2 linked regions of the Homo sapiens genome follow. The protein of the gene in region 1 interacts with the protein of each later gene in a pairwise test. Each region holds a gene or a part of one and is shown on either strand. Other genes may lie near its edges.

What was found. Proteins that work in one complex are often made in the same cells at the same time.
Region 2: the proteins of NUDT5 (region 1) and PPAT interact in binary tests that used the Homo sapiens proteins (3 or more experiments, as listed by UniProt).

What each region holds. Positions count from the first base shown.
Region 1 is NC_000010.11:12,192,892-12,200,276, forward strand, and holds the start of NUDT5 (ADP-sugar pyrophosphatase), read right to left. Parts: upstream 3,001-7,385; 5' UTR 2,879-3,000; intron 1-2,878. Other genes in the region: CDC123 (translation initiation factor eIF2 assembly protein), read left to right, coding at 3,355-3,428, 5,814-5,885. UniProt on the Homo sapiens protein: Enzyme that can either act as an ADP-sugar pyrophosphatase in absence of diphosphate or catalyze the synthesis of ATP in presence of diphosphate.
Region 2 is NC_000004.12:56,404,607-56,411,632, reverse strand, and holds part of PPAT (amidophosphoribosyltransferase), read left to right. Parts: intron 1-735; coding exon of another isoform or gene 736-1,117; exon of another isoform or gene 1,118-1,126; intron 1,127-3,916; coding exon 3,917-3,983; intron 3,984-4,931; coding exon 4,932-5,138; intron 5,139-7,026. Other genes in the region: PAICS (bifunctional phosphoribosylaminoimidazole carboxylase/phosphoribosylaminoimidazole succinocarboxamide synthetase), read right to left, coding at 736-1,117. UniProt on the Homo sapiens protein: Catalyzes the formation of phosphoribosylamine from phosphoribosylpyrophosphate (PRPP) and glutamine.

The DNA of each region.
Region 1 (7,385 bases):
TGTGCCATTTATGGTAAAAAATTTGGGTACCCACAATTGAATTCACTTATGGGTTTTTTTTTCATTCTCTTCAGGTGTGGCAGTTGGGTGGGCAGGGAGTAATTAACGTTTACTGAAATTATGCTACTTGGTGATCTCCAGGAATCATTTAGCAGGTGGTTTAAAATCCTCACATTTAATGCTGGTTGAGCAAGAGTGAACTGACTGTAATGACCCTTGGGAAGGTGAATTGGTTACAGACGTATAGTAACGACACTGTAAAGATAGTCCAGGCAGGAGATGACAGGTCTGGAGTAGAGTGGTAGCCGTGGCAAAGTGACATTTAATTTCCACGAAGACAGTTTTAAGGGAGACTGGGACATCGGAAGAAAAAAGGGGTGATGCAGAGCTCAAATCTGTACACGCTTGTTTGAGGTGATAGCAGACATCCAGATGAAGAAAACCAGCAGACAGGTGAAAATCTTAATCTAGGATGATTAGTCATGCTATGGATTCAGAGAAAGAAATGTGTTTTTTCATTACTTCATTAGGAATTGCACAATAAATCTCCTCCCCCATAATCACATGACTACTGACTTTTCAGCATGCAGGAGAAAAAGCAAATATTTCCACTGTTGAAAGGTTTTATTGGAGAAACTTGATGAATACAATGACTTCATGGCTTAGTGAAGACAACCACGGTGGTTAAAATACAGTGAACCCTCATTTAGCTGTATCCATTCAAAGTATTTGAGCATCTCCTATGTATAATGTCAATTTATTTGATGCTGGTTAAATGTGTAACAAGTTACTTAAAACCAACTGTAATACCAAAAAGTCATTGAACACACTTCTAAAGTATACTGCCTGAATAAAAGGTATCTATAAAAATTCCTTCCCTGTAGTATCTATATATTTAAGCTTACAAACTTAGCTGCTTTTCTACACACAACTGCAATTCTATATTAAAGCTTTGCAACTGCCTTAATCTCTACACTCTTTTTTTTTTTTTTCCCGAGACGGAAAAAAAAGAGTCTCGCTCTGTTGCCAGGCTGGAGTGCAGTGGCGCGATCTCGGCTCATCGCAACCTCCGCCTCCCGGATTCAAGCGATTCTCCTGCCTCAGCCTCCCGAGTAGCTGGGACTACAGGCATGCGCCAACACGCCCGGCTAATTTTTGATATTTTAGTAGGGACGGGGTTTCGCCATGTTGGACAGGCTGGTCAAACTCCTGACCTCAGGTGATGCGCCCGCCTCGGCCTCCCAGAGTGCTGGGATCACAGGCATGAGGCACCGCGCCCGGCCTATGCTCAAATGTTTCTTGGGCTGTTAAAGTACTGCTCCTCGCAGAAGGGCTATGTTCCCGGGATCTATTCTCTTCCGTACATTCATTCCTATCTTCATTAGAAAACATCTGACCTAAATAAATCCCCCATCGATGCTAACATCTCCTTCCGCGCAATTTTTTACTTTCTAAGTCAAATCAAAACAATTATTTGAGCGACTGCTCCTGTCTGCCATTAAGTCTTTCTGGCACCACCCTCCAGACATATATACAATATTGCTTCTTTCCCTCAAATCAGAAAGGACTGCATAGTTCCGGATCAAGGCATAAATGATGAATCATGACTGTCCATCCCCACCAACATACTCTGCAACATTATAATCTATTTACCTCTGCTTTGAAAATGTATTCTTTAAAGCACTGCTTCCAACTAGCCACTTAGCCAGTAACATTTTTGAGAAAAACAAAACACAACCCAAAACAATGTATATATTCCTGGGGGGAAGAGTTTCTAACTCAAAATACGCAGATAATTGTTTATTATTCTAAGGAACACCCTTCTGAAGAGGCCTGCAGTCGGTGGGGCTGTTTCTAATTTAAAACTACTTAGGTGAACCAGGAAGAATGTACATTTAAGGAGATACTTTTAGACGCAGATGCCTCGCGCAAGCCTAAAGCTCGTGTGGTAAGCGACACGACTAGGGGTTAAAAGCGGCTGGTTGGTAGGCCCGGGGCCGTGGCTCACGCCTTGTAAACCCAGCACTTTGGGAGGCTGAGGCGGGCAGATCACCTAAGGTTAGGAGTTCGAGACCAGCCTGGCAAATATGGTGAAACGCCGTCTCTACTAAAAACACAAAAATTAGCCGGCGTAGTGGCGCGCGCGCGCTCTCAGCTACTCGAGAAGCTAAGGCAGGAGAATCACTTAAACCCAGGAGGCGGAGGTTGCAGTGAGCCAAGATTGCGCCACTGCACTCCAATCTGGGCACAGAGTGAGACTCCGTCTCAAATAAATAAATAAAAGCAGCTAGTTACTTCTCATTCTTTTAACGAAACAAACAAAACTGAACTTTGCTGGGTGACAGGAGTGAAGCAAAGGAAAAAACGATAGTACAAGTTCGATTCGAATTCTTCCAGTCTTATGATTCGATCATCGCAGGAATACTGATAAAAATCTGCGTTTTTTCCAGGTTGACAACTTTTGCGAGGCCAGACTAAACGAATTCAGCGCTCCAAGGAGACTCCTCTTTCCTCTGCTTTCTCACATTTACCTCTCGCCTTTTACCTCCCAAAGTCGAACCCTCCAGGATCGTACAGGCGGTATTCCCTCTACCAAGCATTCTACTCCTCTGCAGATGCTGCAATCTTTACACTGGAACTAACACTTAGCTGTGGTGTTCCCCGCTTTCTTTACTCGGAGTAGCCCAGGCTCTTCCTCTCCAATCCACAATTTCCCTCCAATCCCCAGTTTCCCTCTTGGGCGCCTGGACGCGTGCCCAGCCGCAGCCTGGGAGACACCGCGCGGCTGCACGCACCATGCAGATGTGGTCCCTTTCCCCTTCTTCTTCTCCTCCCCAAAGAGGTTTTGTGCTGTGACTGGCTTGCCCCGGTTACTTACTCCAAGGTGTAGGGGTGAAGAACGGAAGAGGACGAAATAACTAGCTGGAGGCAGCAGTGTCAGCCGATGCCGGTGCCACGGCTCGAAACACCGGCGCCTCTCGCGGTGCTAAAAGGATGGGCGCGCACCCTCCTTCCGGCATCCGTAGAACCCCCGCCTTTGACCTAGCTTCAGGAGATTACTTTCCGGGTCAGCGTGCGTTTAGGGCGAAGACGGAGTTGTAAACTTCTTAAAATTCCTCTCTCGACACTTCGGTAATTCCTCTTTCGAGACTAAAGCTCTTTTTGTATGCGTGTGTGTCAAGCGTATGCCCCGGGATTCTCCTCCGCTTCCTTTTCTCGGTCTTCCTTCTTGCTTTAGGGACCGGAAGAGTCCTTGAACCAAAATAGCTCGGCGGGCACTTCCGGGGCCGGCGCCCAGAGTTCCGGGAGGGTGCAGGCAGGAGAGGGAAAGGCAGCAGCGGCGGCAGCTGGAGGATGAAGAAGGAGCATGTGCTTCACTGCCAGTTCTCCGCGTGGTACCCGTTCTTCCGAGGCGTTACCATCAAGAGGTGAGATGGGAGGGGGTTCGCCCGGTCGACCGGCAAAAGGGAACTGCGACTTCTGAGCGAATCTTACTGCTATCCAAAAAAATGCAGGCCTTCTAGCGACTGCATGGGAGGGAGTGTGTCGAGAGGGAAGTACATCAGCAATTGTCTGCGTCCTGTTGCGAGCCAGCGAGTGTGCTGGCTAGGAGGGTCAGTTGTGGTTTTCAGTGAGGGTCGGAGGCGGGAGGAATAGTGGATTAACCTAGTTTAGGCTTGGGAGTTCACCACCACTACTTTTAGAATGGCCCCAGGCGCAAGGTGATCACTGCCTAAGTGCACTCGGAGAATTAATTGCTTTTCGCCATCACCCCAGAGGATGGAGATTGGGAAGGTGAAAGGATACGTAATTACAGTTAGATACGAGAACAAGTTCACAGATATGTCGTACAGCATGGAGGCTATAGTTAATGACGATATACGTATTCTTGAAAAACGGAGAGTGGATGTTAGTGTTCTCACCACAAAAATAACTATGTTAGGCAATGCATTTGTTAGCTAAATTTATTCCACAGTGTATATATACTTAAAAACATCAGGTAGGCGGCAAGTATTAATATATACAATTTCATCTCTCAGTTTTTTTAAAGGCGTTGATAGAAAATCTGGGCTTTGCACTTAACTGATTTTCTGAGCCAACATTTCAGTAATTGCTGATTCATTATATGATGGTTTCATTCAATAAAGATCGGATATGTACTTGAAAATGTGTAACTGGCTTAGAATGGTTAAAATGTATAAGAAAAGTTTCAAGTTCTTAAATAGTATTGGAATGTGTGGTAGAACCTTAGATTCATTGTACTTAACAATTTCGCTTGTTAGCTTTGTAAGAGTAAAATACTTAGGAAGGCTTATTTGTAATCAGCAAATAGACATATTAAGAAAGAAAATTGAGTGGTTTATGAATAGAATTTAAAATTTTAAAGAGACTTTTAAGTTGCAAAGTTTCGCTTGAAATTGTTTAAAATTTAGTAGATTTTCAAACGTAATAAGATTTGTTAGAAGAAATTAAAAGCCTGAAGAACTAGATTTTTTTTTTTTGAGACAGAGTTTTGTTCTGTCGCCCAAGCTGGAGTGCAGTGGCAGCGATCTTGGCTCACTGCAAGCTTCCCTTCCCGAGTTCACGCCATTCTCCTGCCTCAGCTTCCTGAGTAGCTGGGACTACAGGCGCCCGCCACCACCCCCGGCTAATTTTTTGTATTTTTAGTAGAGGCGGGGTTTTCACCGTGTTAGCCAGGATGGTCTCGATTGCCTGACCTCGTGATCCGCCCGCCTCGGCCTCCCAAAGTGCTGGGATTACAGGTGTGAGCCACCGCGCCCGGCCAGAACTAGATTTTTGAATGTGAAATTGTACCTTTGATAAATCAAATATTTATTTTTAAAACCGAAGTTTTTGCTCTGTCGCCCAAGCTGGAGTGCAGTGGCAGTGATCTTTTATTTATTTAAAAATAAATAAAAATACTTATTTTTAAAACCGAAGTAGCCCATGAATACTCTTTTTTGTGCAAAAAAACCATTTGTAATGTGCCAAAAAAAACTTCTTCCATAAATAAATGAGACATGTTATAAGTCATTGATGTTCTGTTAACTTCGGGAAAGCAGGCTGTAATCTTTTCCACTTTTTGAAGATGTATATGCCTCAAAATCAAAATAATACCAGCACTCTTAGGGATCTGTGGTAGGGCTTTTTGATAATTTATTATTTCAAGGTAAAAAACAAATTATCCCATAAGTTTTTAAGAGACTTCAGGTATGGCTTTGCCATCCTTAATTATGATTACCTGAAACAAATTAAGCTAAAGCATGCCTAGTTTAAGCAGCTTTATATCTCTGGTGATCAGTTGAATAGAAAGCCAGCAAGACACATCCAAAAGTATCATGAATTCTTAGCGGTAGGTGCTCACTGCCAACCCAAGAATGGTTTCCAGATCTTGACTCTACTTCTGCCCTCTATCTTTAGAAGGTGACCAAATGCTAGTCATCTTCTAGTTGGGTTTGCTGCATTTCCTGTGTTGCAGCAAATATCTGCTGGTCTCTGATTTCTTAAAGACACATAAATGTTGTGCTCACTCAGAATCCTTTTGAGCTTGTTGCTTTCATACTGTGATTTCCATCTGGTGGTTTGGATTTGGCTGGTTTTTGTTTACTACAAAGACCATTGTGGCAATAAGATGAACCGCAGTAATCTTATTATTCTGATTTCTTGTCTACTGCTACCAAATGTACATCATTAACATTTTCTACTTTATATTAAAAGAAAGACAATTCCAAAATTAATCAAGTGTAGAGATTTTTCTCTCTGCTTATAGTTGGTCTTTTAAAATGATGCCTTTTTTGGTGTTTTTTTTTTAGTGTCATTCTTCCACTTCCTCAGAATGTGAAGGATTATTTACTCGATGATGGAACTCTGGTGGTTTCAGGAAGGTAAAGTATTTTAGAAAAAAATTTCTTAAACTTTATCATAAAGAAACACATAAAATGAATGAATTAGCTTAGGCACCATTCTTTCCCTTTAGCTCTTTTTCTCTCCTAGCCAAAATGATGTGCTGATCTTTGTCTCATATTCCTTCTCAATGTTCACTTAATATTTTCAACATTAAGTACTTTTCCCTCTAATAATTACAAGTTGTGAAATTGAGCAGTTCCTTTCATCTCTGTCTTTAGAAAACAGTTATGATGACAACTTTTCCTTCTGACGGTAGCAGGGTGGGGGAAGTACATATTAAAATTCTTTGAGATCCTTCAGTTTTGACGATTAAAAATTCACTGTTGCAAACAGGCTTTATCATCTAATTCCTCAACATTTTCTTCCCCACGATTGAACTACCGTGGCCCCCCCTCCACTTTCTAGAAGCTGTTCAGGTAGTTTCCCTATTTATAGAATAAAGGGAAGAAGTTACTGTGTTTCAGTCTTTTGGATGCAAACTTGAAAACGTTGAAGAATCATAGGATTTAGTGAAGTTCTCATTTTTTAATTCGAGTCTGCTCAGAAGTCACGTTATGAGTGTTCAGCCCTCACCAGCCTTTCTAAAATAGCCTGACAGTAACCCTATGCCCTGACCTCCCTTCATTTTTCTGCATAACACTTACTTCCACCTGACAATTGTTAATTGTTCCATTAGAATGCAGTTTCATGAAAACAGGGACTTGGCCCATTTGTTCACCCCAGCTCATGGAACAGTGCCTGATATAGCAGAAGTGCTTGATAAACATTTGTTGGATGAAGGAACTATAGAAATACAGTAAGAATTGTGTGTTTTCAGTACTACTAACTGGACCCCATATTTTTGCCTGTTGGGTTTTTAGTGTGGTTTTCTGGATTATATTTCTGTTTTTGGTATTCACAGAGCCTCAATAACCTGAAAATTATTAATGTAGCGCCTCATTAACTTTGAATAATTTGAGGCTGAGGAAACAGTAGGAAAGTCAGATAAGTCTCAACTTTAGGATATTTACAGATATAATTTTTTTTGTTTTGTTTTTCTTTTGAGACAGAGTCTCGCTCTGTCACCCAGGCTGGAGTGCAGTGGCGTGATCTCAGCTCACTTCAAGGTCTGCCTCCCGGGTTCACGCTATTCTCCTGCCTCAGCCTCCAAGTAGCTGGGACTACAGGCGCCCACCACCACGCCTGGCTAATTTTTTTTATTTTTAGTAGAGATGGGGTTTTACTGTCTTAGCCAGGATGGTCTTGATCTCCTGACCTCGTGATCTGGCTGCCTCGGCCTCCCAAAGTGCTGGGATTATAGGCCTGAGCCACCGCACTCGGCATTTTTTTTTTTTTTTTTTTTTTTAAAGATGGAGTCTTGCTCTGTCAGCCAGGCTGGAGTGCAGTGGCTCAATCTCAGCTCACTGCAATCTCTGCCTCCCAGGTTCAAGTGATTTTCTTGCTACAGCCTCCCAACTAGCTGGGACAACAGGTGTGCG
Region 2 (7,026 bases), on another chromosome or scaffold:
GATTTAGACTATGGTAGACATCTCATTACTGTCATTGATTTCCCTCCCTTTGCCTACTAATGCTTCCACAGACAATGAGTAGATTCTATGTAAATAGTGTTGGGTTTAACAACACAGCACGTCAAGAAACCCCTGTAAATCACTTAGTCTCAGATCATTTCATGTACTAAATCTTCATTATACTTCATTGTTAAAATGGAGCTGTTCTTCTTCATTGTTAAAATGGAGCTGTTCTTGTAAACAAGTAATGAAATAGTGTAGAACAGTTATTTTAAATGTGCTTTTATTTATAAATTTAGGAAAACGCAAATTAAATAAAGGAGAAAGTTCTTGTTTGGAGCTGTGGAAAAACATCAGTTGAGCAATGTTTTTGATATTTTTCCCCTTATTTACCACTCTTATAAAATTAAAACTTAAACTATTTTTAGAACTCAATCCATATTTCAAAAACATATCACATGCAGTTGGCACTAGCAGTCAGTGCCATTGTAATGTGCTTTTTCTGTATTTTACAGATTTTTTTAAAGTGGTAATATTTAACCTCTTTTTAAAAAAATTCTTAACCTTGTGCAAAATAGCATAATAAATTGGTTATTTTTCCACAGTCTTGATATTTCAGTCTATATTTATCATATGGCCACAGAAGTCCTGAACTTTTACAGTTCATAAAACTGTAAAACAAAAGAAAAACAAGAGTACTTTTCTTTTTTTTTTTTTTTTTTTTTTTTTTTTTACCTTCAGTGGTCTCTGGGGCTGTACTTGGGCTGAGCGTTTCCAGGTACCTGCCATTTGCATCTTCCTCTGTAAATTGTGTGGCAGGTTCATACTGCAGGATTACATCCAAATCATGGAAGAACTTCATAGTTTTAGAGCTGTCTCCAGAGTTATGGGCATATTTAACTGTTCTATATTCATATTTGAGATTTTTGTACTTAGCCCAGCACTGTTTCCAGTCTCTGTATACTCCTAATGATTGCAGCCTTTTAGCAATGTAAATAAATATTCCTTTATTTCTTAGTGTTCCATAAAGTTGTTTTCGTATATTTTTTTCTGCCCAGACACTTAGCAAAGCTTTAACCTCCTCCTCAGTCCAGTGCTTTCCTGCTCCACTCTCCATGTTGAAAGTGACCTGGAAATGATTCACTATTTCCAGCCAAGGTTTTGTTTCCTAGGAAACCACATGGCTGGTTGTCAATAAGCTCCGAAGAGCTGAAAGGATGTAGTTTAACTGGTTCAAGCTGCCTGAGGGAGTAACTTGAGAAACTGCCAAATAAGCAGGCTTTGTGATTAAAGAAGCCTGGATCTAAATGATTCTTAACTATATCATTTCAGCCTGAAGGAAAAACTTCCCTTGAGACAAAAGGGAAAGAAAACCGTTTTTTGTGTATTTCTTTTCTTACATAATTTACTGTTTTACCAAATGATTGTTGATTTTTAAAAATTGTTTTGAAAATGGTTGGCAGAGGCTTTTTCCAAGAGGTCTATAGCCAATGTTAATAATATATTTCCTCTGACATGAATCACCTAGTCCTCTAACATTGGTTAACTTACAGACCCCACAGCATTTCACTAAATAAAAGAAATCATAAGTCAATTTATTTAGTCCCATATGGTATATAGTATTATGCATATCTATTTTCAGTATTTAATGCATTTAATAAAATCATTTCTTGAGGCTGCTGTGAGCTGTGATCATGCCAAGTTTTTTTAGAGTTTTACTTGGCAACATATTTAATGTTGTCATTTTTCTCGTTAATAAAACACTGCAACAATTGCAATATATAATTTTGAAAAAGGTTCCTTTTTACCAAATAAATCAATGTATTAACAGCTACTAAAGTCTACAGGCACATATGGAAGAGGTTTACTTTTTGTTTCTATCCTGATATATATTCTTTGGAACAAAAATTGGTCAATAAACATCTACTATTTATAGCACTTGTTCAGAACTATTAAAAATGGCAAAGCAGTTGGAACCTTTATGAGAGTTTATACTGCACAGTGGTATGGATGCTCTTAGTCTTTACTATGTCTTGCCCTACCTTCAGTCTAGATTTTGGCTTTTTTCTCTGTATCACCACTTAATCAACACTAATGCAGGAAATGAGACACAGACATGGGAAAGGGTGCCTGGTCAGCAGAGGGTTTTCAGAAACAAAATTTTTTTTTCTAATAGCAAAAGTGCTATTTATTGGAGAACATTTGGAAAATGCAGAAAGGCATAAAAAATGGTTACCAACTATGCATTTTGCCTCTATTATATTTGGAGATTTTAATTTACATCTACATACTCATCCTGTTGAAACCCTATTTAGGGGTTATAAAGAGTAGAGGTTAGAAGCATAAATTCTGCAGTTGGATTGTCTGCATTGGAATCCTGGCTACCACCTGCTGTCTGTGTGACAATGGGAAAGTAACTTCCTTTCTATTGCTTTAGTGTGTTTATCTGTAAAATGGGCATGGTAATCATAGTACCTACTTCATAGGATTGTTGTGAAAACCAAATTATATCACGCATGCTATCGACCTAAATAATTAAAAGGATCAGAATCTAATTTAGAGAGAGTTTATTCAAGCACCAAGTTTGAGGATGTCTCACCCAGAAACACCAACTCCAAGGAATGGAGTCAGCATTGCAAAGTAGGAAAGTTAAGGTTTCATTTCTATAGGCAGACAGAGGAGTTTTTAGCAGAATCACAACATTTTTTATACAAGGTTAGCGCGCCCAGTTACAGCAGTTTGATTGTTATAGGTGGTGGTTCTTCTGGGGAAGGGTACATTTAACATTTTTTTACAGAGGATGTTAATGGGTTTTCTTTCATTTGGTCTAGCAAAGCAGGACAACAAAACAAAAGCTAACTTTTTTTTTTTTTTTTTTTGAAACGGAATCTCGCTCTGTCGCCCAGGCCGGAGTGCAGTGGCGCGATCTCAGCTCACTGCAAGCTCCGCCTCCTGGGTTCACGCCGTTCTCCTGCCTCAGCCTCCGGAGTAGCTGGGACGACAGGCGCCCGCCACCACGCCCGGCTCATTTTTTGTATTTTTAGTAGAGACGGGGATTCACCGTGTTAGCCAGGATGGTCTCGATCTCCTGACCTCGTGGTCCACCCGCCTCCACCTAGGAGTTAATCTTTAACAAAGCTCATCACTTGAGAAGGCAGGAGGTTATTGTTTCTGATGTCTTTTTTTTTTTTTTTTTTTGAGACGGAGTCTCCGCTCTGTCGCCCAGGCTGGAGTGCAGTGGTGCGATCTTGGTTCACTGCAACTCCGCCTCCCGGGTTCAAGCAATTCTCCTGCCTCAGCCTCCTGAGTAGCTGGGACTACAAGCGTGTGCTACTATGGCCAGCTAATTTTTGTATTTTTAGTAGAGACAGGGTTTCACCATGTTGGCCAGGATGGTCTCCAGCCTTGACCTTGTAATCCGCCCACGTCAGCCTCCCAAAGTGCTGGGATTACAGGCGTGAGCCACCGTACCCGGCTGTCTCTGATGTCTTTTAATTCTCTCTAGTCATTGTATAGAACAAGAAAAATAAGAAAGTGAGTTAATCTATAATCTGAGAAACAGAAGTTGTAACCATATGTGACTTGGATCACAGTCATATCTCTCTCAAGGCCTAAAGTATATTTGGGGTTCCAATAGCTTTTAAATTATTTATTTTTACAACGTAAAATGCTAGGACAGACTGCCTGGCATGTTAGTTAATATTAGATGAGATATCTAATTGTTACATTGTCATCTGCTGTGATTGCTAATCATCAGCATCAGCATCATCAATAGAAGTAGTGCTAGTACAAGTAGCATTTAATGTGTTGTCACACTAAGTTCATGGATGCTTGTTGAGAAAGTATGCTTGATAAAGTTCTTCAAGAAGCTAATCAATTGGCAGATTTAACAGCTAATATCTTTTTATATTCACAGGGGTCAGGAGAGTGCTGGTATTGTGACTAGTGATGGGAGTTCGGTGCCAACATTCAAATCACACAAGGTAAATTTGAACTTTAAGAAATGTTGATGACAGACCAAGTGCGGTGGTTCATGCCTGTAATCCCAGGACTTTGGCAGGCCAAGGCAGGAGGATCACCTGAGGTCGGGAGTTCAAGACCAGCCTGACCAACATGGAGAAACCCTGTCTCTACTAAAAATACAAAATTAGCCAGGCGTGGTGGCGCATGCCTGTAATCCCAGCTACTTGGGAGGCTGAGGTAAGAGAATCGTTTGAACCTGGGAGGCGGAGGTTGTGGTGAGCTGATATTGCGCCATTGTACTCCAGCCTGGGCAACAAGAGTGAAACTCCATCTCAAAAAAAAAAAAGAAAGAAAAAAGAAATGGGATGACAAAGATAACAAAGACAGATGATCATTAATATGGGGAGGGGGATTTGAATAAATAATTTGCAATCAAAAGTAATATTCTTTGGATCAGCCACTTTCAACTTTATATCCTAACATTTGTCAAATTAGGATGTATTTCTTCCCCAGTTATACTTTTTTGCCTAAGACCAACTCAAATAGGGGGTCATTTATTTAAATGCTTTAAGATGCTTTGATTTTTTTAATGCAAATTTTAGTTTTTATACTTGACAAATTTTATTGCTTACTACATCTGTTCTTAAATGTTTTAGTGAATAGTATCTTATGAAACACAAGTGCTTCAACATTGTGAAGGTATTAAATGCCACTAAATTGTTCTTTTTAGAATGGTTAATTTTATGGTATGTGACTTTTGCCTCAGTAAATTTTTTTAAGTAAGTGCTTCACAGTTCTTACAATTAGGTTATTTGTTTTTGACTTTTTTTTAGATTAGAATTCTGAAACACAGAGATATTAAATGTACTTCTTTGTCTTATTTGGATTGGCTGGGCAGAGAAGAGAGGCGTTTATTACTAGCAGTACTAGTCTGTTTTTTTCTAAGTTGCACTTTTTGATTTCTCAAGGGAATGGGTCTTGTAAATCACGTCTTTACTGAAGACAATTTGAAAAAATTATATGTTTCAAATCTTGGAATTGGACACACCAGGTATGCCACCACAGGAAAATGTGAACTAGAAAATTGTCAGCCCTTCGTTGTTGAAACACTTCATGGGAAGATAGCTGTGGCACATAATGGCGAATTGGTAAATGCTGCTCGATTAAGGAAAAAGGTACGTTTGTTTGTTTGTTTTCCCTAGGCCTTTTTAAATGATTAGGATGGGTTAATGAATAAAAGTTAAGGATCTTTGTAAAGGGCATTTTCTAATTGTTGCTACCTGTTACCTAACTGCAACAAACAATTGCATCAGAATGATCTGGAGTACTTGTTACAATTCCAGATTGTAAGCTATCCCCTAGAGTTCGAGACAAGGGTGAGAATATGCATTTTAGACTCACTTTTTGAATGCACTGCTTTAGAGATTTGGGAGAGTTGATTTATGGATGGAAGCATAGAGAAATTAGAGTTTATGGACTTGCTATCTCTTTAACTCTGTTGCTATGTTCAAAGCTTGTATGAGATAAGAAAAATCAAGCCATTTTTCCTATTCTCAGACTCAGCACACTTCTGTCACCAAATAGGGGGGTTTCTTATACCAGCAGTTTTCCAGAGGACACCAAATGGGTATCCTATAATTCAATTGTATTCTGATAGTACCTGGAGGTAAAGTCAGGTTCCAGAAGTTAAGGGCTCAGTCCCAGAAGTTAAGGGCTCAGTCCCACAAGATTGTCCCGCACTTCAGATGCCAGTTGCAAGTCCAGGCCTTTGGTACATCTGACAACCAGTTATAAATTGGGAGTTCCTGCAACAGCCCTAGCACTACCTTTGGTTTCAAACATCACAAAACTCAAGAAAGTGCTTTGTATACATTTACCAGTTTATTATAAAGGATATTACAAAGGCTACAGAAGAACAGTCTGGTGAAAAGATGGAAAAGGCAGGGTATGTGGGAACGAGTGTGGAGCTTCCATGCCCTTTCCAGGGGCACCACCCTCCAGGCATCTCCAAGTGTTCAGCTATCCAGAAGCTCTCTGAACCTAGTCATTGTGGATTTTTATGGAGGCTTCATGAAGTAGGCACGAATGATTAAATCATCAGCCACTGGTGATCAGCTCAACCTTTAGCCTTTGTCCCCTTCCCTGGGGGTCCAGGGATGAAGCTGGAAGCTCCAACCCTCTGGTTGATTCCCCTGGCAACTAGCCCTCATACTGATGCTGTGCAGGAGCCCCTAGCTACCAGTCATCTCAACAGCATACAAAAGGACACCTATCATTTTGGCAATTCTAAGGGTTTTAGGAGCTGTGTACCAGGAAAGACCAGGATAAAAATAACATATATAAATCTTCTTACATATCACAAAAGCATAAAAATAAAATGGAGTATAAACTTGAAGATGACATGAAAAAATGAATTGGAAACAATGACAGGAAACTAGAATATGGGAAAAGGGACGGAGACTGTTTACTTAAACTCTTGGTTCACAGCATGTTGTTTGGAGCTTTCTGTGCTAATGATGTCAAATTTGTGCCTATGCTTTCATTCATCATTTCATCTTTCTTTTTTTTTTTTTTTAACTGCCTGTCTTTATATTCATTCCTAGTAGCTTCCTTTTATCCATTCAGGCATTCATTAATTAATGTTGAGTTTCTTCAGTTTATTAGCTCCCAATAACCTTGACTTGGTAACTTCAGAACCTGGTGATATTTAGTAATAGATGGTTACATGCACACCCCATCCTATAAGCATTCTAGAGCTGGGCAATTCACATATGATGAACAGTTACAGAAGCTTAATAATAATGAACTGCTGGGTCAAAAATATCTAGAACCCAGGCTTTTGTACCACTCACTGTCATTCCATTTTTTAGTTCTGTCTTTAGACATTTCCTAGAGCTTTGTCCAGCCCTGTTCATAGGCATTATAATGACCTTATTGTGCTTTTCTGTCCCCAAATGAAAAAATACATAGTTCATTTAAAAATTCAGACAATCATGAAAGTATAAATATGGAGTAAAAATTTCTTAAAAATTCACCACTTAGAGATAACCACTAACTCACTGT